Homo sapiens: one gene and its partners. The protein of the gene in region 2 interacts with the protein of the main gene of each other region in a biochemical or structural test. Each region holds a gene or a part of one and is shown on either strand. Other genes may lie near its edges.

Region 1 (10,785 bases), on a different chromosome or scaffold from region 2:
CCCTGCAAAGGCTGCACCTTGAGTTGCTAGGCATTTACTTCCCAGACATTCCCTGCCCCTTACTACCAGTAAAAGTGGTAAATGCAGGGTGTGGCCAGAATGCTTTTCTAATCCCTAGTGCCACTCCAAGTCCCCCTACAGAGTTAAAGCCTAAAATGACTTCAAACCCAATGGAAGACATTGTGTGATGGAAACAGTTCTAGTTTTCCAGTTGGCTTTCTAGCCATGAATTTGTGTCCTGTGTCCTTTCTCCAGCAGGTCAGGGAAAGTGCAAAAGGCAGGCTTTACTCTACATTGACTGCCCAGTGCTAATGGGTAGGAGCACGTCAGCCATGGGACTCGCAGGGAAACTTGCCACACTTTGAATATAGGAGTCACCTGGCTGTGTCTTGTAACCAGTTGGAGACTTCACTCACAGATGTCACTCTGGGGCTACTGAAAATAGAAGAAATCAGATAATACAAAATTTCTAACTGTATTCACATTAGTGTGTTCTTTGTTTTCTTATTTATATTCACAGTCATGAAAGAAAATGAGGTTAAGTACCTTTACACATGGTAAAACCAAGAAACTGAAAAGTTTAGTTACTTCCCTGAGCTCACAAAACAGTGACAAGACTCTGGATCTCATTTCCCTATCTCCCTGTCTCTAACCCAGGATAATTCTCTGGATTGCATTGCGTGTCAGAATTTCTCTGTTCCTACAGTGTAAATTTCAGCCTTAAGCTCCACCTACAACTTGCCATTTTCGCCCAAAGCATTCAAGATGTTCTTTTGCATCCAGACCCTCCTCCAAATGAAGAAAGCTGCAGTGAAAATGCCACTGAGTTGAGGGGTTGCAAACCAAACCTCCATTCCCATAATTCAATTCTCAGGCCCCAGCCTTCTGCTAAGGCTAACAGATCCACTCCAAAATTTTAAGAGTCCACAGTGATCAAAAGCATCTGTATATTCTGAAACATGCAAATCAACCCTGTTTTTCACATTCATCTCAACATTTGGTGGAGGGCACAAGAGTCAGCTGGCTGCTGAGTGGACGCAGCTTAGCAGATGAATGGAAGGGTCAAATCCCTCTCAAGATTTGTAGAACTGGATCTGAAATATGAAATGCCAGCATACGTGATGAGAGGGATAGTCTATCGAGTGTTTTATCATCCAAAGATGGAATTAATGGCTATGCCATATCTGTGTCAGACCCCGGCAGTAAAACTTTATGGGTTCTTCCCCGTGAAATATTTTGTTTATGTCACGTGGGTCTCATCGGATGTTTTTTTCTCTTTTCTTCACTTCCCCTCCCCACCCTTTTCCCTGCCCTCTTTGTCTCCTGAGACCTATTCCCTTTGGAAATGCATTAGTTACCTAGGAAACCTTAATGTCATTTTTTTATGAGTGGAGTTTGGTGCAGCATAAAGTTAATTTATAGGGTGGTTAGGAATTCATGTCATGACTGGTGAAATAGGAGACTTTATTATGATTTCTACATCCACCTGTGTGGTAGGAATACATACCTTCCCTCTATCATTACGGGTAATTTCTTGAAACGTAATTATGAATATGTATGCCATGTCACAGAATAAGTTGATTCACCGTTGTTCAATGCAATTCATTATATTGTTCAATGTAAGCCCTAGAACATAATTAGCAATAACAACAAACCAATAATATACCAGGCAATCTGTTAAGAGTTGAAGGATATGGTGGAATTTCCTTTTAAATGATGAGGTGGTTCTGGGTGAAAGGCAGAGAATGAATAAGACGAGATTTTGAAATCCTTCAATTCTGTCTTTCATGCACATTGAGGTCCACGTTGGGAAGCTATATAAATTCTAAATATGTCCACTACTTCATTCTGCTGATTTATTTCTGTATTTGTCCAAAGGGGAAAATATACATCCATAAAATTACATTAATGAAATGTGTAGTGGCATACAAATAATAATACACAGGCCATTCCAGAGCCAAGCTTCTTTCTAAAGATAGCTCATTCCCCCAGTGGTGTGACAGTGTTTCCTGTGTAAGGACTAGCAGATCGGGACTGGCATTCACATTGTGCCAGGCACTGTGTTGAATGTTTTAAATTAATTAGTTCCTTTGGTCCTCATATTACTTCTATGAGATTGGTGTTGTCTTCACCAATTGCAGATGGGTTCTAAGAAGTTAAGAAACCTGTACAAAAGCACATGGCTACTGAGTGGAGAAGGTAGAGGGGAACCTGCTTTTCTCAGGCACCAAAATCTACTCTGGCAGTAAATTCTAGGTCGTGGTCTGTCATTATGTTTTTGTTTTTGTTTTTTGTTATTCTGAGTTTCCTCAGTTATTAAATGCAGAGTGGGGGACATAGGGGCTGATAGAAGTTTATCTCTGATGTCTGTATTCTGTGTAGAGAGATCAATGCTAGTCCTTAGAGCAAAGCTGTGCTTTCTTAAAATGACAGAAATTTGGGGGAAGACCTGGTCTTGTTAAATAAACATAAACAAGCCACTCAGTTTCTGTGGACAAGTGCATGCGAATTGAAAGAAAAGAAGAATGTCTCACAGGTGACTCCAGGTCATCTGAGAGGAATTGCTATATGGCTTGACAGCCTGTAGCTCTTGGTGAATAATGCTGTTGCCAGTATATAGAAACGGGTGGGCAGCCAGGAATCTTTCAAGTGCGGAGGCACAAAGGTAGCATGAAGCCGCCTTTCCTGACCCTTAAGCTCCCAGTCCCTGTGCAAACACCTTTTGCATTCACTTTAATTGTTTGAAAAACGAAGACTTCCAGACTCCATCAGCTCTAGCAGCTGTCTGGGTGGATGGGGGTGGGGATGGAGGGGGTAGGGCGAGACCTCCCCACAGCGCCCTCCAGCAGCAGAAGATGCAACTTGCAAATACTTCAGGATCAGTGAGAAGTGTGGTGTTTATTTTAGTAACCTCAAAAGAGAGAAAAAGAAAAGCAGTGGAAGAGGACAGACATTCAAGGCTAGCTACACGATCATGGGGAAAAAAAACAAGCTTGTCTTTGACACGGAAAGGGTCCTTGGAGGCCATTCGGTCCACTTCTCTCATTTCCTGGGTCAACATGTCACAATGAATTAACCACATACTGCCACTGCACAAGACCCCCTCCCTCACCACACGCTGAGCCCCCACCACCAGCATTCAGTCCACTGAGCTCAAACATAGGGAGATAAGTGCTGTTTTCACAAGATAAAGGCAAAATTCAATCCCACGTTGCCGTTTTGTTTCTGTTCAGTGTTCCAACCACAGAGTGGTGCTATTGCAAAAGATAAGGGTAACCAGAAGGCACGCTCTGGAAATTTGCTTTAGGAGAGAGTTTTAAAGGGGGTTTTCAAAAACAAGATCTGATTCCTGCTCTCAGAAATCACTTCCAGGAGTCAGGGCCTTACTCTCAGATGCAGCAGGGAGAAGAAGAAAGTTCAGCAACCTAAAAATACAGTCGACAGATGGGCAGCCAAAGTCATGGCCACGAAGTCAACTTGGAGAGGAGCACCTACCTAGTGAATCCTAAAAGATCTCATCCTGGATGCTTCCTTAACCAGGCCTATGTACAGGGCACAAGCTCGCAGCCAGCTTACTTTCCAGTCCTGATCTTTGCTTTTGCTATCCATACCAATGGTATTTCTATAGAAAAGAAAAATCTCTATTTAGAAACACGGATTTACTTAGAAGTCACAATATTCTAGTTTAAAAATGGCTCTACATAGTAGAGAATGATCTTTTTATTCTGTCTTCTTAAAAATACACCTTTCTAATTCTTTTTTTCTTCCCACCTTCTTCATTCAGCACCTTGCCACTCCCTTGGAAGCCACAACAGCGAGCTGGGGGGTCAGTCCCTAGTCTTAGAGGGAAGAAATCTTTAGGTCTGAAGTCTAAAGAAAAACAGTAAAGGAAAAGGCAGTTGGCGGTGCTCAAGGTAGACTGTCTGAAAGAGGTCTTCTACTCAGAAAAGGGCTAAGGCTCTCCCTTTGGGAAACCAATCCTTCTGAGAAAAAGTGCATCTTTCACCCTCTGCTCCTGTCTGGGTCTCTCCCTCTTCCTCCCTCCTTCCCTCAGTCCCTCCTCCCCTCTCTCCACAAAGACACAGCACATATTTGGCAAGATTAAGGTGTCACCTCTCATATTACAAGGCCTGTTGATTGCAAGCAAAGACAGACCCACCAGCTTAGGACAAAACCCCTTGGAGTTGGAAATAAGACAAACTCTGGGATCCCCGAAAGTCCCGGCAAAATGACGCGGCCAGCCAGTGCAAGGCATCTGCAGAACAAATCCAAGTCCTAAACGCACTGCTTGCTGCCTTTTCTTCTCCTTCCTTTCTTCTGATTTTTCAAGTTTGTTTGCCCCCCTTCCCCTCCTCCCTCCAGACTGCCAGGGACCTGGGAGCTGCCTGCAGATCAGCCCGCACATGTATTTAACCCCTTCCCTGCTGCAGCAGGAGCCAACCACCTCTTTCCTTGCAATCTTCAGGTTCCCAGAGGACCTGGAGCTTGAGAAAAGAACTCTGCCAGTGGATCTGAAACTGGGGCCTGAATCCCTCCTTTGACCAGGGCGAGAAGCTGGAGGAGGGGGGCAAGTGCGGGAAGTGGGGGAGGGCAGGGAGGCGGGCCAGATGAGAGGGAGAAAAGCAGAACCCGACAGAGCACGCCCAATCCAAACCTTCATGGTGCTGTGTGGCTGGGTGGAGGGAACGACTCGGCAGCCTCTTCTGGCCCTGAGGAAGACGTCGATATTTTGGCACGAGGGGAGCCACTGAAGGACTACCCTACCCTTGCGAGGGACCGCAGGAGGTGACGCCCCTGGGCCTCGGTGGGCGCTTCTGGCGGTTTTCGATGTGGCAACCCCCATCAGCCAGGATAATGATGAGGCAGGTACAATCTATCTAGTACGCAGCCCCCAGACTCCCCCCTCCCTTCCCACCTCCCCATCCAACCCCCCAGCTACTCTCTGCGGCCGGTTGGTCCTGAACTGGTGGGTGCAGTTCCGATGTTTAACCAAATTCTCAAGCAATTTCAAGGTATTTGGATTTTTTGAACCTGGGCCCTAACCGAAACGCGGAACGGCTTGCTTATTAGACACCTCGAACGACAGGGCAGGGAGGAAACGGGATACTCGCTGCCCTTCCCAGTCGCGCGTGAGTCAAAAGGTCCTGGCAGGAGATGATGTGAGGAGCGGCTGAAGTGGCAGGGAGGAAGGGATGAGGGGCTTGGAGCGGAGGTCCACCACGCAAGGACTCGGGAAGCGGGCAAGTGGGCAAAACTCTGCTTCCGGGCTCTCGATTTCTCGTTGATCACTAAGTGGTATTTTTCCCCCTTCTCTCGATGGCAAATGGGCGAAATCAAGATGACTTAACTTGGTAAATTTAGAGAGAACGGCTCGGAGCAAGTGAGGTCTAACGGGCAGCTAAAATTATCTCCAAATAAGAGATTTTGACCCCCTCCCCCTATCCTCTCCTCGAATGTATCCACCGGTGGGGAAGTGAGCGTCATTACTTTCGGGGCGCCACGAACAGGTTTGTTTGTTGCTCGCCTTTCCTGCTTCTCGCGCTGTCCCCGCGTGCAGACTGGTGGGTGCTGGGCGAGTGATTAGCTGCAGGGCCCCATCCTAGTTTGGAAGGAAGGGGTTTAGAAGTTGGAGGATGGGTGAAATGGGAGGCTGCGATCCATCTCCCTCTCCCTTCCACACTCAAGCTCCCGCAAACACGCGCGCGCACACACAGCCCCTCCCTAGTCCCTCGGACCACCCGCCCCCACGCCCCTCTACCTTGACCTCCCTTGACCGCCGACACAGCGTCCTGGGTGCGGGTCCCCGGGAGCGGGGAGTTCGCCGGGGAGCGATTGTCCTTGGGCGTGTTCGTGCTGTGGGGTGGGGGGAGGAGTGGCGGGTGGGCTTGGTAGGGGGTGGGGAGAGATCTGGAGCTGGAAGGGTCTAAGGTTTGGAGGAGGAGTTTACGCCTCAGACCTGATCCTCCTGAGGAAAAAGGCAGGAAAAGGCCCTGATGCCTTGTAAAGAAAATCTTGAAAGAAAAAAGATCAAAAAGAAAAATTTCAAGAAAAAGAACCACTAAGAAAGGCTGAAGACACTAACATGTAACCTGTTACGATACATTTAACGTTTCGTTTTTTCCTGGATCTCTAAAAGGGAACTCAAGGGTGGGGGTTACTGAAGAATACTACAGATTTGGAAGTTTTTGTTGCTGTTGTTGTTTGGTTTGGTTTTGTTTTTCAAGAGGGGCCAGGAGAAATGACCCCTTCCCCGCCACGGGTCCCGAAGTGAGGGCGGGGGGGGGGCTCTGGGGCGCGGGCGCGCGCGGCGCGGCGCGGGCCGGCGGGGGAGGGCGGCGCGGCGCGGAAGGGGTTAAGGCGCTGAGCGCGGAGCCATCTGGCCGGGTTGGCTGGTTATAACCGCGCAGATTCTGTTCACGGGACTCAGAGTTGAAGCTCCTCTCCCTTCCGAACAGCTCCGCGCACCGCCCCGCGACGCAGCCCGGCGCAACTACTTTCTTCTCTCTCCTTTCTTTCTTCCTCTCCTTTTTCCCCTGCTGGGTAGTGGCTGCGGCGGGGTGGGGGAGACTTTGAATGACCGAGCTCGCGTCCACCTTTCTCTTCATGTCGACGTCCCTGGAAACGGCCACACGGATGCCATGGTTACTTTTGCCACGGTAAGGGGAGGCGGCGGGCACCTTGGGTGGGCAGGTTTGGGGATGGGGGTCCACGTGGGGAGGGATTTTCCAGTGGACTGGTGCGGGGGGCCCCAGATCCGCATCCCGCCCCACCCCCATCGCGCCGCGCTCACTCACTTTCCCGGGCTTGTGTCTTCCCCAAAGTTTGCGCTGGGATCTGCTCAGGCCGAAGCGCAACCGCAGCCACCCCGCTACACACACACACACACACACACACACACACACACACACACACACACACACAGACACGGACACCCTTCTCCACCTCCTCCCCTCTTGTCCCTCGGCTGCCCAAGAAGCTTCCCTCAATCTGGGAAAGTGATCAGGTTTAAGGGACCTGGATTGGAAAGGGTGGGGGCAGAAGAGGGGAAATGGGGACGACGAAAGAGCAGGAAAGAGATTCAACAGAATCAACCACCCACCACTCCCAACCGACCCGCCTGCTCCTCCGAGAAAGCTCCTAGCGCATCCTATAACAAAAGGGGGTGGCAGACAGAACTCCGGGCGGGGAGGTGCCGCGGCAGCTCCCCTGCACACGCCCTGCACTCTGCCGGCCGCTGAGCCTGATTCTCAGCTCGCCCCAGCACCACTCTGGCCCGGGCGTGGGCTGGGGGGAGGGGACGCGCAGCTCAGGACCCGGAACCTCGCGTTCCAGTTTTGGGAGTTGGGACTCACTGCCACGCGCCGCGTACCTGCGTTGGAGTTCCCCGAAAGGGTTTTTTCAGAAAAGACCTCGCGCCCCGGGCTCCTCTTGGCCAGCGCCCACCCGGTGGCCACCCCACCCTGGGCCTTTGCGCAGATGTTGGAGCTCCGTACGCAGCCCGCACATCTGGGACCCCTCCGGGGAGCGGCGGGCACCCGGGCCCGGCCATCCCAGGGGATCTCCTTGCGGTATCGTCCAGCCTGTTCTCGGACTTTGAGCGGTGGCGTGGGAGGCCGGGAGACCTGGGCACCCGCGCAGCCAGCCAGGTCGGAGTTTAAAGGTCCCACGACGGACCGAACTGTCCCATTGCCCCAGAGCTTTACTCAGTGGTGGATGCTCCTGATGAAATTTGGGACGCTTGGGAGTTGAAGGTTAGGGACAGGAGGGGCGAGGGCCGAGGGCATGGGATGGGGGAGTAGGATTCTGCTTGTTGCTCTCCGCGGGAGTGGGTGCGCGTCCAGGAGGCGCTGCTTCTTTGCGGGAGTTTGGCTGCTGCGTTCATTCGTCGTCTGCGCTTCAGATGCACGGCACTGAGACCCTTGCGTCCGACGGTGTCGGGGCTGTGGACTAGAAAGGATCCCTTTTGCTGGAATCGAGGCTGGGGTGGGATTGCCGGTGGGGGAAACACCGAAAAGATCGTCTGGCCTCGGCCTCTGGCGGCGGGCGGCAGGTTCTGAGTCCGAATGGAGGTTGCTCCCGGGAGCGCCGGGCTCAGAGCTAGAGAGCTCGGGAGACTGTGCGCCTGTGGACTTGTTTATGTGTGTGAAGAGGCGGGGGCGAGGGCCTGCTGAGAGGGGAGGGGAGCCTGGAAGGGGTGGGTGTTTCTCCTGGAGCCTGATGTTTGTAACTCAGCTGATTATGGAGTGCACTGAGCGACCTGCTTTTTAAATAAAGAGGTGCCCGCTCCTACCCCGCAAAACAGCGAACGAGGAGAACATGGAAGCGCTCTGTCCTAAACGTCAGGATGGGAGAAAGTTGTAACATAGAGGAGACTTTTCCAGAGGTCCTGTTTTCACAACACTCAGAAGTTCTCCAGCGTACTCAGCCTGCCTCCCGCCTGCCCTCAATTCCTTTTTGACATGTCACACAAAGAAAGCTGAAAGGTAGAATGTGGAGGATAAACTCCAACCCCCTCTGCCTTGGGCGCAAACACACAGACTTAGGTATCGTGTTAGGAGGTAAGGGGGTTGGAAAATAATGCAGGCTCCGGTAGACAGTGTTGAAGGGAGATAGAAAGTCTGGGGTATTTCCCCTAGGGAGAGTGTGTGGGATTTTGTGTTGGTGAGGACTGGAGTGTAGCTGGACTTAGAGGGTTTGGTTGTGTGTGAATGGGATATGCTTATCTATGGAGTGAGATTGTGACCATTGAGTGAGTGGTCAGGGAGGGATGGGGATGTTTTTCCAAAGTGTGTGTGTGTGTGTGTGTGTGTGTGTGTGTGTAGGGGAAGGTGGCAAAAGAGCTGGAGTCCTATCCCTCTTTGGTGCCTGGGAGGTGTGTGTTTCTGGGGAGTCTGTCGGATGGGCATCTGTGTGCTTAGCGGGAGACAAGAGCTTGCAGGAACATAGGTGTAGCTAATGCGAAATCTGTGCCTATGAAGGGTGTCAGAGCAGGAGGAGAGGTGCAGCCTGTTGAAGACAGATGGCTTGTGCATGCCTGCACAAACACATGGAGTGGGTGTGGTGTAGGAGGGCGGCTGTGTGTGTGAGGGAAAGGTGGATGCATGTGGAAGGTTGGGCGCCTGAGGATTACCAAAGGGATGTGTGTGGGGGGTGGGGGAAGATTATCTGAGGAGCACGGGGTTTGAACTTCATGAGGGTGCACTGGGAAATTTGGCTGGAATGGCACTGGGGCATGTAGGGGGTAGAAAAGTGTGAGCTCAGATCCTCTTTATGGAAAGACAAAGCATTTGCAGGGAAGGACACCGGGTTGGTGTTGGTGTTTGCCTCCCCCCTCCTTCCTCCCCAGAGAGAAGAGAATTGGAGGAGGCTTAGAATGAGGGATGTACATTTAAGGGGAAAAGTCCTTGTGCATTGGCACTGGGTGGGAACAGGAAGAGATGTGTGCATAAGACTGAAGTAAGTAGAGGAATGCACTATCTGTGCCTGGTGTCAGGGATGCATGTTGTATAATGTTTTGTAATGGGTTTCTTATGTAATAGGAGAATTCACTATCACCAGTTCATATTGATAATCAATTAAAGCTAATGGAGTGCCTACTGGATGCTCAGCCCATTGCTGGGTACTGGGGCATGGCACACTGCCCTGGAAAAATTCCTTCTCCAGGCTCAGTAAAACTGATGCAATTTTGCCAGAAATAGACAGAGCTCGACGCTTGTTGAGGTTTCTTCAAGGTCTATAATTCAGTTTCTAGAGATGTTTATGGATCTTGGGGGCCAAAGGGAAGCTGACTTGAAATATATCTCTGGTTTTGTAAAAAGTGGGGCATAAAGAGAGGGATGATGTAGACTTTTGTGTATTGGGAAGGGAGCTGGACGGTGTTGTTGTTTCTTGTGTGGGGTGTGGGCTGGGAATTGGAGGGTGCTGCACTTCAGGTCAGAATGCAGGTCCAGATCCCTCTAAGGATTGAGTTTCTAAGAGTACACAGAGCCTCCTTCATAGCTGGAATGAGACCTGTTATGTGGAGCTGGAGAATGGTGAAGTCATGATCAAGGAAGAGATGGACTGGGAGTGTTTGTTCATCTTTGATGTTTTCTGGGCTACGAGTGTAAAGCTAACCTGAGTGTGTGTTGGGGGGGTGGGTATGCATGCAGGTGCGTGCACATGCACTTTGGCCTGGAGTAACGTAACTGGGAGAAAACTAGCGAGGTGGATAGGAGGGGTGGATATTCTGGCTCTTGTGAAGGGGGTGCCAGTATGTGTTTTTGCAGGAATTCTGTGTGTCTGGGGAAGGATAAAAATTGTCTTGGATACTCAGATGTGCATCTTTAGCGAAAAAAGGTGTACACAAAAGAAGGGCCGTAGACTTTGGGGAATGAGACAAAGGTGTCGTTGATCGGGTCCATACCCTGAGATGGCTGGTGAGGCAACTGGGTAGGAACAGAGTGAAGGCTGTGCTTTTGTGATGCACACATCTGCCTGTCTGGAGCAGACGATGGGGATCCCCATTTGATTAGGTTCTGACCACCGTTGGGCATATGTTTGGGAGGACTTTATTTGACTCATGACATTTTTGAATTCATGAAGTTACAGCTGTGCCATTTTAAGGGTCTACCTTATTTTTGAGAGGGAAACTCATCTGTGTAAGAGATAGTTTATATAGGGCTTGACTATTGGTCAGAAGATCCGGGGCAGATATTTCTGAGAGCAGGGTGGTGAAGTGCAAGACTGGATTGGGAATGTCTTAGTTCTAGTCCAGTTCTACCACTTGGGAAAAGTGTGACTTTG
Region 2 (7,000 bases):
GGAGCAGGCGAGGCTGCAGGAGTTTGACCTTGCCTGAGAAAACTCAGAAGAGGCAAGAAGGCTGTTATCTTGAGCTAACTAAGTAAAACTGCTTTAAAAGAAAAAATCATTGCCTTAGTGCTTGTTGCATGCGTAGTATTGTTTTCTCAGCACACGCCGTGTCTTAGAAATGTACTCTGCTCCCTCTAGTCTCATCTTGCAACCACAGGACTAAAGATTTCAGCCAGGATTTGGCAGTGGGTTTCACGTCTGCTTGAAAGCACCATCTTTGAAAGCTACAACCAGACAGAAACTCACACGGCTGGTTTGCTGAGCAGTCTTCTTAACGTTTTCTTTCCTCAACTTGCTTGCCGCCCTCTGCAGATGTGGTCAACATGAACAGAGAGCGTGTTTACTTTACCATATCAGGTGTTCTTCAAAATTAAAAGGAGCATTTGATGAGGGAGATGGACTTTAAAACATGGCTTTTGAGAGCATCCCACAAGAAGCAGTCCCAGGATTTAAGCCCTCATTGCTACAGCTCCGTTTAACATTATGTGGGTTTTCCTTCCAACGGCTTGGTTCTGCCTGCTCCCATGGAGATAGAGAAGGGGACTTGCTTGGAAGTTCAAACACCGCCTCCCTGTCTGACGTTTAGCTGTAGAAACAAATTGTTATGTGTGAAATTAATGTTTCATTGAAACCAAGAGGTATTGCGTTTTTATGGATCTAGAGTGGGCTGTGCACACACAGCTCTGGGTTTTGCATCTCCGGAGCTGCCCTTGGAGGCAGCGGTGCTATTTGAAGGTGGATAAATATTACAGAGTGTGGCTCTCAGCCTCTGGGGTTGCGGTTTCATGTTATTCCTATGGGGAATGTGCTGTGCCCCGTCCTGTTCTTAATGTTTCTGGGAAATCGTGGGCTTATTGTGCTTATTTTAAGCACAGCTCACCTGGGCTCCTTCCCACAAGGCACTTGATCCTCAACTTTGAAGCTGAATGTATCATTTGACTTGAACGTGAGCTTCCTGCAGCCTGGTCCAGTTTGTTCACCTCTGTCATTGTTCCCCGAGAAGATCAGCACCTCCCTCCCCTGCCCTCCCTTCCCCTCCCCTCCCCCTTCCCTCTCCCTCCCCTCCCTCTGCCCATTTTCCAAATCTGCTCTGTGCTGCGCCTACATGGTTAGTGGTATCCAAGGCAGTTGAATGCAGAGGTGATTCTGAGCAGACTACCCACACTCTCTGTTCTGCAATCTTGATGAACCCGATATTTGTGTATATTTTATACCCAGAGAGCTAGAGCTACACATCAGAAGAGCTTCTGAAACTTGTTTCTCTGAGTTAAGAGGTCAAGAACTAATGGTATGTGGCAGCTTCTACTATACTACCCATGGCCTCTCCCCAAGTTTGCGTGAGAATTCCATCATGACATCTGCCAGGTGTCGAGTTCCTGGAGGGCAGGTGAATTCTCTTTCTAGGGCTGCCAGGGCAAAGTGCCACAGACTATGTGGCTGAAGCAACAGAAATGTATTTTCTTGCAGTCCTGGAAGCTGGAAGTCAGAGATCAAGGTATTGTCCAGGTTGATTCCTTCTGCGGCCTCTCTCCTGGGCTCGCAGATGCCACCTTCTCCCATGTCTCCACATGGTCTTCCCTCTGTGTGTGTCTGTGTCCTCATCTCCATTTCTTGTAAGGGCACCAGTCATATTGGATCAGGGCTTATTCTAACCACCTCATTTTAACTTAGTTACCTCTTTAAAGGCCCTGCTTCCAAATACAGTCACATTTTGAAGTGCTAAGGACTTCAACGTATGGATTTTGGTGGGGGGACACAGTTCAGACCCTAATAGCAGGGAAGGGGTCTCAGCTTCCTTTGCATCTCCTGAGTTTAGAAGTGGATCTTAGAGTAGTCTAGTGGGAGACAGCAGATGGACATGAACAGCTAGGATATGAGGGGGCAAGTGTCACCCTCCCCCGATAATGCTGATGGGGAAATCAGGGAAGACTGCATGGAAGAGGGCATCAAGGCTGACCTAAAGAATGAGTAGGTGGAGTGTATAGGAGATGGAGAACATTCCAGAAAACAACATTCCAACTTGAGCAAGGTCTGGGGGGTAGGAATTTTGAAGGTATGTGTGTGTTATATAAAGTGAGAGTGAATGCATTGTGCATGGAGACAAACCATAGAAAAGAAGTTTGGAAAAAATAGATTAAAAAGTCAGCTCCCGATGGACCCCAGATGTGAGGCTGAAGAGTCCGTGTCGCAGTGACGAGTGGTGGACATTGCAATTGAGCTTCAGAGGCAGCCTGCCCGGGTCTGTATCCTGGCCCTGCCACTCTCTGGCTCTGGGATCCAGGTCAAATGGACTAAATTCTCTGGACTTCAGTGACCATATCTTGAAAATGGGAGAAGTAAAGGCTCATAGGTTTGTGGTGCAGGTGAAGTGAGATCTTCCATGTCAAATGCTCAGATCAGAGCCTGGCCCACAGCAGGAGCTCAGAGAATGATATCAAGAAACAGCCCTGGAGGCACTGTGGGGGATGGGGCTGGTGAGGGCTGCAGGGTGAGACATCTGGACAGAGGCTCAGGGAGGAGCTGCTGCCAGAGGGAGGCTTGGACCAAGGCTGTGGAGGGGGCTGAGGGAGAGGAGAGTGGGCTGGAGAGAGGTGCGTGGCTGGGCGCACAGGACGTGGCTGCCCCGGCTCTGCAGGCCTCTCTGTCCTGGGTGGTGCTGGGCTTCTAGGCTCCAGGCCAGCCTCCAGAGTGCAGAGACCATGTGAGTTCTTAAATGAACGGGTTCAAATCCACGACAAAGCTGACTTGAAGCCTCGTGTCCGATGCTTGTGGTTTTGTGATGTCAACTCCAGTCCACCTTAGAGGACAGCTTGGTGGCTCCAAGCTTGGGGTTTTGTATTTAAGTATGCTGAACTTGCTGTGCGTTACTCTGGAATTCTAGGCCCACATGGTGTGGGCCTCCCAGCATTTGGGGTGGAGGCTGGATTGGAGCCTGAGGTGTGGCCCCCGGTGGCTGAGCTGTGGCTGGTCGGCCTGTGAGTGCTGGGCCTCCGTCCAGAGGAAGTGCATCTCTGTCGTGATAGCTCATCACCAAGGGTGTCCAGCGGCCACCTGGAGAGAGACAGAAGCAGGCAGAGGTCAAGGGATGTGGTGACCAGGGGTGAGTGCCTGTCATACTTGCTGTCAGGAGCTGGCTGCTGGTGGGGCAAGCCTGTCCGGGACCCTGGGCCTGGCAGCTGGATGAAGAACCATGAGGGAGCCGGGGACTCTGTGTGGAGAGAGGCGGCAGCACATGGGGACATGCAGAGGGCGGGCTGAGTCTAGGGAAGTCTCGGCGTGCAAACCACAGGCTCGCACGGTGACCCAGGGCTTCTGCCCTTGCCCCAGTCACTCGACACTCAGAGCATGGGTTGAGAGCTCCCAGCAGGAAGGGGAGGGTGTTGTGCCCAGAACCCTCCACGTGGCCTCATATTTGCCTCCAAAGCAGCCGGCAGGCCTTGTTTCCTGGGTGCTTACCCATGGGGTCTGCTGGGTGCACTTTGCGGAAGTCCCCATCCTTCTGATTCTCCTGTGAGCCGGGAGGATGGGGAGCCGTGCTCTCTCTCGACCTGGGCCCTAGTTTCGTCATCGTGTTTCGGGTGTCAGCCCTGGGGTGCAGAGGAAGGGCCTGGAGCCAGTGGGATGGGCTCCTTCTCTTGAAGTGCTTGTGGTCCAAAGCGGGGTGGGGGCAGAGAGCCCCAGGGATGCAATTCAGGAGGAGCGAAGTGGGGCCGGTGTGGAGGCACAGTGCAGGGAGAGCAAGGTGGGGCAGGGGAAGCTCAGTTCACCTGGGGAGGGGGTCACATGGGCCACAGGTGGAGGAGGATGAGGATGACTGGCAAGGCTGGGGAGGTGTGGCTGAGGGGAGCAGCAGAGATCTCTGAGGTGTAGAGGGCAGGTGAGCCTGGTGGAGGGGCTGCCCGTGGCCATTGCCTGTGCTGTGAAGCAGGGGCTCCCTGAGCAGGGCTCCTGCCCATGGTGTTTCCTGGCTGGGGTCCGAGGGAGGCTGTTGCTGTGGTCTGGCCTTCACAGACTCACTCTGTGGCCTGGGTGGGGCGGGCCGCTCTGGGATGGGGAGCTGCGTAGACCCGCTTCCCTGGCCTGGGTGGGGCGGGCCATTCTGGGAAGGCAGAATACAAACTCTGCCTTCGTTTGTATTCTCATCCAAGTTCAACAGATGAGACCTTGACTGTGGATCCCCCATGTTCTGTCCTCTCTCTGCACCCCCTCAAGTGCTGGTCTGTTCCTGTTGCCTCTGAGGACCCCTGAGAAGCTCCCAAACCCACTCTCCCACTCCCCAAAATCAGTTCACCTGACCTAAGGTGCCCTGCCTTGCTGGGTCCTTGCCTGAGGGACCGACACTCCCGGGGAATGCGAGCAGGAGGGGTTATGGGATAGAAACTGGCTTTGGGCTGGAAGTCCACCCCTCTGGTGCACAGTGGGGAAGCGCAGAGGTGGGGGAGGCTGGATTGTCTTCGGTTGCCCCGCGTGCAGGGCAGCAGCGTGGATGGGCTCTCGTGCTGCTCTGGAGGCCCTGATCCCCCCTCGCTGGAAGTGCTCAAAAGGAGGCTCCATGTCCATGCTCCAGGCCACTGCAGGGACTTTCGGTTTGGGGTGGGAAGCGGGACCACCAGGGGCCGACTGAGGGGTCCAGAGTTGTGGTTGTGAGCCCAGATTCCCAGCCGGACCCAGGGGTGCACTCCATGCTGTTCCACATGGCCTCTGGCTCTGACCCCGGGGTCCCTCCCCTGCCCTCCAACACATTAGTGCTGCCTTCCCTCTCCTCCCTGGGGAGCCCTGGGTTCTCTCCCTGCAGCGCTCAGCTGGGCACTCACTCCTCCCTTCCCATCATGCTGGCCACCCATGTAGCCAGTCTTCCCCAGGCCTCAGTTTCCCCATCTGTAAGGTGAGCGTCAGGACCAGACCATCTCCAAGGTCACTACCAACCCGGACGTTGTTTATGCTTAGTACACATTTGCTAATTTATTTGTATTTTATTTATATGAATGGAGACCGGGAATGAAGTAGAAGAGACTTTGGAATGCCCAGCCCAAGAACCTCACCGCAGCCTCTTTCAAGTAGTAATGAAGGAGGCAGATTTCCATGAGAGTTGAGCTTCAGGCACAGCTGGTCTCACCCGTGCCTGCTGTTCACGCTTGGATGAGGACTGAACCTCTCTGAGCCTTTTTCCTCATTTATCAAATGAGGATCATGGTTCCTGTGTGTCAGGCCAGTGCTGGGGCCACACACTCCATGGATGGGGGCCTGGCCAGCAGAGCCACCAATGTCCTCCTTCATCTTATTTCCTAAGAGTGTCGACCTCACTTGCATCTTCACTGTCTTCTTGAAACTAGCTCAAGGCCCGGCTCGTGGTGGCTGTTGGCCTCAGCTCTTTACCGAGCTTCTCTGTGTGCCTAGCGCTGTTAGCTGCTGAGGATTCAGTGAGGGGCCAAGTCAAACTTGGCCCCTGCGCGGGTGAAATGTTTGGTCTGGACAGGAATTCACCCCAGCGCGTTCTAGGTGCCGTGTGAATCTGCGCTGGGGAAGTCTGGGAAGATTTCCTGGAGGAGGTGAAGATGGAGCTGCTCTGCAGGATGAGTAGAGTCCCGGGCTGAGGAGGAGGTTGGAATGGTGAGAATATTAAGGCTGAAGGAGAGGCCTAGGGGCTGGAGCAGCCTGGAGCGCTCATGGGCACAGGAGAGACTCGTGCGTTGATCAAGAAGCCTGGCTCGAAGTCATAGAGACAGCCCTGTTAATAAAGTTGCTGAGCACATTTCACAAATCCACTTTTACTTTAATAAAGGGCGATTTAATTTGTAGTTGCGTGAAGGTTCCTGAGAGTATTCTAAAGAGGTCATAAATTAGCCTCATTCCTCGGCACGCCCCTCAGATGAGAAGGCAGCCCAGAGCTTGCGTGGGCCTCTCGGCGTAGCCGTTACTTTATTTTATGGTGATTTTTCAGAGTCAGGCTAAGACTTGTGCAGATGATTCGATGGAGAGCAGACTGGAGTGACGGGCGAATCAGCTGGGACGCTGCCGAGAACCCCTGTGCCTTTTCCGGTGCAGGAAGAAATGGAGGGGAAGCTTGTACGTTGCCTCCTCTTTTGGGGCCGCCTTGTCTTTCTTTTTTCAGACTCCAAAGGATGAGTTATTTATAGGTTCTTACGAATGGCCCACTTTGTCCTCGCCCCTCCTTAGTCGCTAGTTTGGGTGGGTGCTCTGTGGATTGCAGGGATGCCGATGACCTGAGAAGCCTGGCTGTGCTGCAGCTGCTGTTCCTGACCGACGTCCTCCCCTTTTGGAAGTCCAGGGAGCAGAGATCCCTGGCTCTGGCCACCGGGAGGGCAAGGTCTCCGTCTGTAGCTTTGGAAAGGTGAAGGCATGTGTTCTGCATTGGTTCACATCCTGCTTTTTCTTGGAAAGCGCCGTCCTGGATGTGAGCTTGGATTCTGGGTGTAGAAGAAGTGCAGACATGGGGCTGTCAGTCTAAGTGGGTGGTGGGGGTGGGGAATGCCCTGTACCTCTCTCCCCGCTCCCAGCAGGTTCCCACAAGCACAGACCATCCCTGACCTGCTCTGCAAGGCTGTAAAACACAGACTTAGGCAATTTGCTCACTGCTGATTGATATGCAGCCCGCTGAGGGCAACAGCAACGTCTTTTCCATTCAGCCTCATGACTCGGGACCGCTTCCCAGAAGGCCTATGGTGCTTGTCACCTCTATTCCAATTAAGCTCCATTTGTCATTAAAAAAATGGAATAGGGATACTTGAGTGAGTGAGGACTCTCCTTGGAAGACTGGAATAAAAGGTAAAACTCCAGTGTCCTTTTGAGGTGGAAAATCTCCTTCTTATTTTGCATTTCTATAGCAGTCAGTTACTGTATTTGCACAGAAAATTACAATCATTTAATTAGTTTCTTCTCACACCAGCTCGAAGATCTTAAAATAACAGCACTCTCCTTCCTTAGTAAT
Region 3 (7,000 bases), on a different chromosome or scaffold from region 2:
CTCAGGTTCCTAAATCTATGCTCTTCCTGTCCTTGGAGCAAGGATAGGTCCTGCCAGATCCAGGGTGGCACAGAGTTCCCCACCCAAAGCTGGAAGGGGTGAAGAAGATCTGGCCCTGTTCCTTCCCCTCCCTGTACAAGGAGGCAAGGACCCTGGCGTGCCCAGCCTCCTTCTCCTTATTCTGGAGTGCACATCCAGTAATTAAGAAAACATGAGTGAAGAATGAGCTTGGACATCTCCCTTGCATCCTGGCCGAAAGGGCAGACGACGCATGTGCAGATCTCAAAAGGGTGATCATATAGTTGTGCAGCTTGTGTACTGCTCAACAATATCCATCTGAGAGAGTGAGTGTGGGCTAAGAGCCAGCTCTCTAGCTTCAGTGGCTCCTGCCTTACCTGAGCCCTCTTGCCTGCAGGTCCGTCCCCACCCTCAGGATCCAAGCCCTTCAGCAGCATGGGGGTAGTGCCATGGGTGGGAAATTCTGCTGTCTAACCCCGGTCACTCCCATTTAGGCTGCATCTGAGCCCACACCTGTGTGGAGAGGAACTGAAGGCAGATGAGGCAGGAGGCTCCCTAGGGGAAGGCCTACCTTGCCTGGACCGGGTTAGCAGCCCAGCTCTGGCCCGCGGGGAGGGCTGGGTGGGAACCACGTTCAGATTATTCCTTAATCATGCTGGGAACATAGTACAGGCCTGGGAACTCTCAAAGAGAATTTGCCAAGAAACTTAGCGGCACCAGCTGGGTTATGCCGGAAAGCCTCCCGGCCGGCCAGTGCTTCTGGAGCCTGGAGGATGCGGCTCCGGGCCTCCTCCCCCTTTCCCAGTTGGCTGCCACCAACTTTCACAGGCTAGGGGTCAGGGTCCCTTGGAAGAGGGTGGGAGCCGATGAGAAGGCTGAAGGAGGAAGTCAGCGTCCTGGCAGGCAATAGGGGAGGGAGAGACTCCAGCTCCTGCGTCCCGGGTGCCCAAAAGAGCAGACGACTAAATCTGGTGTCCGCTGCGCTCAGGCGTGACGTTCTCCGACGTGGTGAGCGCGACCGAGCCGTGCAAGCCGTGCACCGAGTGCGTGGGGCTCCAGAGCATGTCGGCGCCGTGCGTGGAGGCCGACGACGCCGTGTGCCGCTGCGCCTACGGCTACTACCAGGATGAGACGACTGGGCGCTGCGAGGCGTGCCGCGTGTGCGAGGCGGGCTCGGGCCTCGTGTTCTCCTGCCAGGACAAGCAGAACACCGTGTGCGAGGAGTGCCCCGACGGCACGTATTCCGACGAGGCCAACCACGTGGACCCGTGCCTGCCCTGCACCGTGTGCGAGGACACCGAGCGCCAGCTCCGCGAGTGCACACGCTGGGCCGACGCCGAGTGCGAGGGTGAGTGCGGTTCGGGGGGCGGGGGGAGTGGGGGTGCGGGGGTGGGCTGGGGGCATAAGGAAGGGCGCTCTCTGGAGGTCGACAAGGACCCTGCCTGGCCTGCTGGGGCAGCTTGGTGACCTTGAGGCAGCGTGCACCTTCCCTGAGCTTCAGTCCTTTCCTGGTAACCTAAGGGAGGAGGTCATTCCCCATCCTGTCTCAGCAAAGAACCCCTCTCTGTGTTACCTTCTTTGGGCTGTTTGGAAAGTGGGCGTTCTCAGCGTCCCAGGCCGCGGGTACTACATTGTAACTCATCCTCCGGGACGCATTTCTCTGTGGCTTCCCGCTAGTGATTAGCTGAACAGCAAGCAGCTCGAAGGTGGCCACTACCCCCAGGGCACAGAACGGGAGAGGTCTGATCCATGAGGCAGGCTTTCTGAACTGGAAGAGCAGCTTGAGGACCCTCAGGAGCTGGGACCCTTTGACTCTGAGCCCTGGTCTAGGTCCATGGTGGGTTTTGGCTCTGGGACCTGAGATGGAACCCACCCTGTCCTTGACTGACGTTAGGGAGTCCACTCCTGTCTCTGGGCCTCGGTTTCCTCACTGGTCATATGGCTGCCAGGGTTGTTGCGGGTTAGGGAATACAGTGGGGCTGGCCCACTTCAGCTTGCCCTGTCTAGGGGAGGGGTCAACCGTGTTCCGCAGTTTAGTGAAGGATGAGGGGCATGCAGGGAACACTAAGGAGGGGCTCTGTGGAAGAAGAAGGAGGGGAGGGGCAGACCTGGGGCTCAAAAGCCCGGGGACAAGGCAGTGCATGCTCGTGGCTGTCAGCTCCAGGGATGGATGGGAGCTGGGCGTGCCCACCTTAGCCAAGCACAGGCCCCAAGGAGATGGGGTGGTTCTTGGGATGGGAGAAGGAAGCCCCGTGGGAGCCAGGGCAGAGCTGTTTTGGTCTCTGGTTGGTGACGTCCGTCTCAGGGGAGACTGGTGGGCTTTTCCACTTCGGGGAGAGGCTGGCAGTGCCTTTACATCCTGTCCATCATCCTGTGGCCATGCACACATTGAGCTATTTCCCTTTGAGAACTAACCTGCATCCTCAGGTTGCCTTTACCCTGAGCAGGCAATATAGTACCTCCTTCAGTGAGCCCCCAGTTTGATGGGAGAGATAGCCTTCGCCCAGTCTAATGAGAGAGACGTGGTCCCAGCACTTAGTCCCCAGCTGAAGGAGAGATAGCTCTCACTTTAGAGATCCCCCATTCTGATGGAGGCAGCAGAGCTTCTGCCTCAGTTAGCACCCAGATCTCCTGCCCCTGGGGACCCTCCAGTCTGATAGGGGCTCCAACCCACACCTGCCTTCCAAGTCCTGCCATCTCTGGCTTTAGGAGCTCAGGATGGGGAGGGCTGTTACGCTGGGCTAAGGCCAGGTTGAGCTCAAAGCTTCCTGCCTTGGAGAAGGAATGAGGAGTAGGATGTGGTGGTTCTGTTGGCAATTGCCCTGGGCCAGGAGACAGGCAAGTGGCATCAGGCGCCAGGCAGAGCGCAGGAAGGGTTTCAGCAGCCAGGCATCAGGCAAGCAGGCAGCTCATTTCTGTAGGCAAGTCCAGACCAGCCAGCTGGGGGCGGGGCGGGGGGACTTGGGGGCGCTGCTAGAGCAAAGAAAGGTGGTGACTGTGGGAGGAGCAGGCTTTGTCTTTTGGGGCATTCACAGATTCCTCTCAGATACCAGCCCACTTTCCCAGCCACCCCGAAGGAGGAGGGTGCTCCTGAGGGAGTGTTCATACCAGACCCTGTTCCCCTTTCAGCTTCAGGCTCTGAAGGGTTAAATGTCAGCTCTGGGACAAGAGACCATTTCAGGAAATGGAATTTGATTCTTGGTTTTGTTGCCCCCTCCCCTCCAGCGTACCATACTTTCCCCGCATTTACTTACGTTTCAGGTGTCAACATGGTGACTCACCCACCCTCAGGGCAGAAGGGCTACCCGCTGCCCCAGTGAAATTCGGTTTGAATAGGGATAACCTGGTCCCTCCATGCAGCCCGGAAATGGCTGTCAGGACCTGCCAAGGGCTTAGTAGGTTGGAATGCTAGTGGACGTGGCCACATCTGGATCTCATCCCCCCGCCCCCGTCAGAGGGGATTGGAGAGATGAGGGCAGCTCCCCAAGAGTCAGTGCCGCCTCTGGTCTGGCCACGCCTTGCTACCCTCCCAGCCTTCCCCTACCATGCTCTGATCTCGGTGATGGTCTCATTCATTGGGCACCCGGACATGTACACTCCTTCACCCTCTGGCTTGGGGTCAGTCTGAGCTGAGCTGTGTCTCCAGCCTCTGGACTTGGGCTGCCCCCCAGCTTGCCCAGTCCCCTGGCAGAGCAAGAGAAGACCCTCCCCAGTCCAATGCTCCACCTGGGGCTGCCAGAAGACAGGGCTCTGTCTCCTTCACTACCTCTGGCCCCTCCCAGGACGGAGACGGGGAAGGGTGGTTTGGGTGACAGATGGCAGCCCCTCACTGCTGGCAGCCAGATGGATTCTAGATTCACATCTGGGGGCTTTGCCCCTCAGAAGGTGCTGAAAACGGGCCTTTGAAGCATTTCATCTTGAGTGGAAGAGGCCAGAAGATGGGTGGCAGCTTCTACTCCTGCTTGGGTGGGCAAAGTGGGGGCTGGGAGGGCAGAGCTGGGAGCCAGTTACCCTCCCCTTCACCCCATTGGCATGTCCTGCCTGCTTTCCCTCCCTGCCCCAGGCGTGGGAAGTGAGGAGGGACGGGGTAGGCAACATTGCCCAGACAAGTATCCCCAGGCCGTCCAGAGCCCACAACCCCTAGCACTGCCCCTGGCTGTGTGGCAGAATGGAAAATCCCACCCACTGGTGCCAGGAAGGGCTGGGTCCCCTGCCAGGGAGGCTGGCAATGCCCAGCTAGCATGAGAGGGTCTAGGTGGGTGGCAAGTCACAGTCTCCCCCCGCCAGCTGAGGCATTGAGCTGGACCTGCCTCATGGGCCCCTTCTCCACTGGCTCTCTGCTTCCTGACCAAGGAGGGTTGGGGCTACCTGATGCTGTCATCTCTGGTTGGCAGGATCAGGCTAGGTGGGAGCCAGGCAAGACAGGAAACAGAGGCTGGCCACTGTCCAAGGGCTGGCTGGAGGGAGGCAATCCAGCTGCCCCCGCACCCCTCCTTTCCACCCAAGCCTAGAGCCTGAGACATGAGGTCAAAAAGTCGGGGAGTGCTCTCAGGGAGGTGGTGTGGGGGAAGCACCTCTCTGACCAGACCTGTGTACCCTCTTCTTTCCTTAGGACAGGAGTGACTAGGGTCATCAAGGACAAGCTGGGGCCAGAGAGACATTTCCCAGAGTGACTCCAGCTCAAGGCCTCCCTGTGGTCAGGCTTCTTTGTGTGTTTGCTCCTAGATAGGCCTCTCTAGGTACTCAGGAGGTGGAATAGAATTCCAGGACCATAGCCCCAGATGGAAGGGAGCTTAGAGACTGTCTCTCTTAATAGCCCCATTAGATAAATAAGGAAATCAAGGTTCTGAGAGAAAAGGGGGCTGGGCCAGAGTCACCCAGCAAGTCAGTGGCGAAGCTGAAGGAGATGCAGCTCTGTGGGCCCACAGGCCTTGCTCTTTAGCATCATGACATCATGCACGCAATCCCAGCTGTGCATAACAGCTGGGCACAAGAGCACCTGGAGCCAGGGCGGGGACACAGGAAGAACACGGCAGTGGGTTAGAGCTAAAAGGGAGGAGTGGGGGAAGTGGGTCCTCACTCCTGTGGCCTTTTCTCCCAGAGATCCCTGGCCGTTGGATTACACGGTCCACACCCCCAGAGGGCTCGGACAGCACAGCCCCCAGCACCCAGGAGCCTGAGGCACCTCCAGAACAAGACCTCATAGCCAGCACGGTGGCAGGTGTGGTGACCACAGTGATGGGCAGCTCCCAGCCCGTGGTGACCCGAGGCACCACCGACAACCTCATCCCTGTCTATTGCTCCATCCTGGCTGCTGTGGTTGTGGGCCTTGTGGCCTACATAGCCTTCAAGAGGTAAGAGAGGGCACGGTGGCGACAGAGAGGGGAGATGTTTGCCCTCAAGGAAGACTTTGCTGTGACCTTGACCTGAAAACATACACACCCTTTTAACTCAACCCCAAACCAAGCTCATCCTCACTCATCATCTGCCGCCCCACTCCAGGGTGCAGCAGGTCAGCAGGAGGTGAGGGGAGAGGATCCACCTGTCCTGTCCTGTCCTCTCCTGCCCTGTCCTGGCTCCAGCCCCTCCCACTCCCATGCCGCACCACTCCCTGACTCCCCACCCCCAACTGCTTGTGTCCTCATCCCCAACCTCCTTCACCCCACAGTCACCTGCGTGTGCATATGTCTCTTCCCCTTCGCTTGTCACACTGGGAATGCTGTGGCACCCACATCCAGGAATCCAGGATGTGCACGAACTCCCAGAAGGCATTTTAAAGCTTTAAATGCATTTTCCATTCTTTCTAAAAAAAAAAAAAAAAAATCATCAAAGTAACACATCCGTGTTTAGGAAAATGCAAACAAGACCAATATCTTTCAAAGCAAAAAGTAAAAGCCCCCTTTTATCTCCCCAAATCCTACTTCTCTCCTTATTGGAATCTGTTTGAAATGGATCCTTCCCAACTATTTTCTGTGTGTCTTTTTTTATAAACATGTATATAAACCTTTTATAATTACATGTAAACATGGAGGGCTTTTTAGGCATCAGTGAGATCACATTGTACATATTCTACAGCTTACTTTTTTCACTCAGTCTCCCTCAGGAGACCTTTCCTCAGGAATGTAGATTAGCTGATCATTTGTAACCACTCATTCAATAGTATGGATGGATGGTAATTTATTTAGCCAGTCCCCATTGATGGACATTTGTTTTTTTTTTTTTTCCAGTTTTTTGTTATTGCTTATAATTGCAGAGGAAATCCTTTTATATGTCACTGCCCACATGTGGGAGTATTTTAGAAGGGTAGATTGGGAGAAGAGGAGTTCCTGAGCAGTCACTTTTGCTGCACTGCTCATTCCAGGAACATTTACTGAACACTTACAGAGGGCCCCTCTGCCCTCATGGAGCTTTCAGGGTAGGTGGGGGCAGATGTGCAAAGAGGAGCCTTAGATGGTGGGGTGGCGGTTATAATTGGGCACCCGCCATGCCCCTGGCCCTCACACGGCAGAGCACAGATACTCAGCTGCATCGGCCACTACAGCCCCTCGCCCCCTGAAACCTGGCCTGTCCTCTGGCTCCAGGTGGAACAGCTGCAAGCAGAACAAGCAAGGAGCCAACAGCCGGCCAGTGAACCAGACGCCCCCACCAGAGGGAGAAAAACTCCACAGCGACAGTGGCATCTCCGTGGACAGCCAGAGCCTGCATGACCAGCAGCCCCACACGCAGACAGCCTCGGGCCAGGGTGAGCAGCGGCCCGCTGGGGAGCTGAGGCGGAGCTGAGGCTGAGGAAACAGAAGCAATTAAGATTAGACTCCAGGAAGGACTGTCGGGGGGGCGGCAGGGCTGGCTCAGCGGTGCCCCTGTAGATGGATGGAGAGGCTGGCCGAGGGGAATGGGAGGGAGAGGTCCTCTCTAGAGGAACGACTTGGGAAATGGAGGCTTTTACAAGTTGGAGCATCCAGACTCATCAAGCTAATTGTCC

Evidence for each region.
Region 1: the proteins of SORCS2 (region 2) and NTF3 interact in a biophysical measurement, tested with the Homo sapiens proteins (one study listed by IntAct).
Region 3: the proteins of SORCS2 (region 2) and NGFR interact in a biophysical measurement, tested with the Homo sapiens proteins (one study listed by IntAct).

Annotation. Positions count from the first base shown.
Region 1 is NC_000012.12:5,425,687-5,436,471, forward strand, and holds the start of NTF3 (neurotrophin-3 isoform 1 preproprotein), read left to right. Parts: upstream 1-6,421; 5' UTR 6,422-6,638; coding exon 6,639-6,656; intron 6,657-7,582; exon of another isoform or gene 7,583-7,646; intron 7,647-10,785. UniProt on the Homo sapiens protein: Seems to promote the survival of visceral and proprioceptive sensory neurons.
Region 2 is NC_000004.12:7,195,538-7,202,537, forward strand, and holds part of SORCS2 (VPS10 domain-containing receptor SorCS2), read left to right. Parts: intron 1-7,000. UniProt on the Homo sapiens protein: The heterodimer formed by NGFR and SORCS2 functions as receptor for the precursor forms of NGF (proNGF) and BDNF (proBDNF). ProNGF and proBDNF binding both promote axon growth cone collapse (in vitro).
Region 3 is NC_000017.11:49,505,293-49,512,292, forward strand, and holds part of NGFR (tumor necrosis factor receptor superfamily member 16 precursor), read left to right. Parts: intron 1-364; exon of another isoform or gene 365-1,006; coding exon 1,007-1,366; intron 1,367-5,119; coding exon 5,120-5,372; intron 5,373-5,524; exon of another isoform or gene 5,525-5,608; intron 5,609-5,690; exon of another isoform or gene 5,691-5,821; intron 5,822-6,599; coding exon 6,600-6,760; intron 6,761-7,000. UniProt on the Homo sapiens protein: Low affinity receptor which can bind to NGF, BDNF, NTF3, and NTF4. Forms a heterodimeric receptor with SORCS2 that binds the precursor forms of NGF, BDNF and NTF3 with high affinity, and has much lower affinity for mature NGF and BDNF.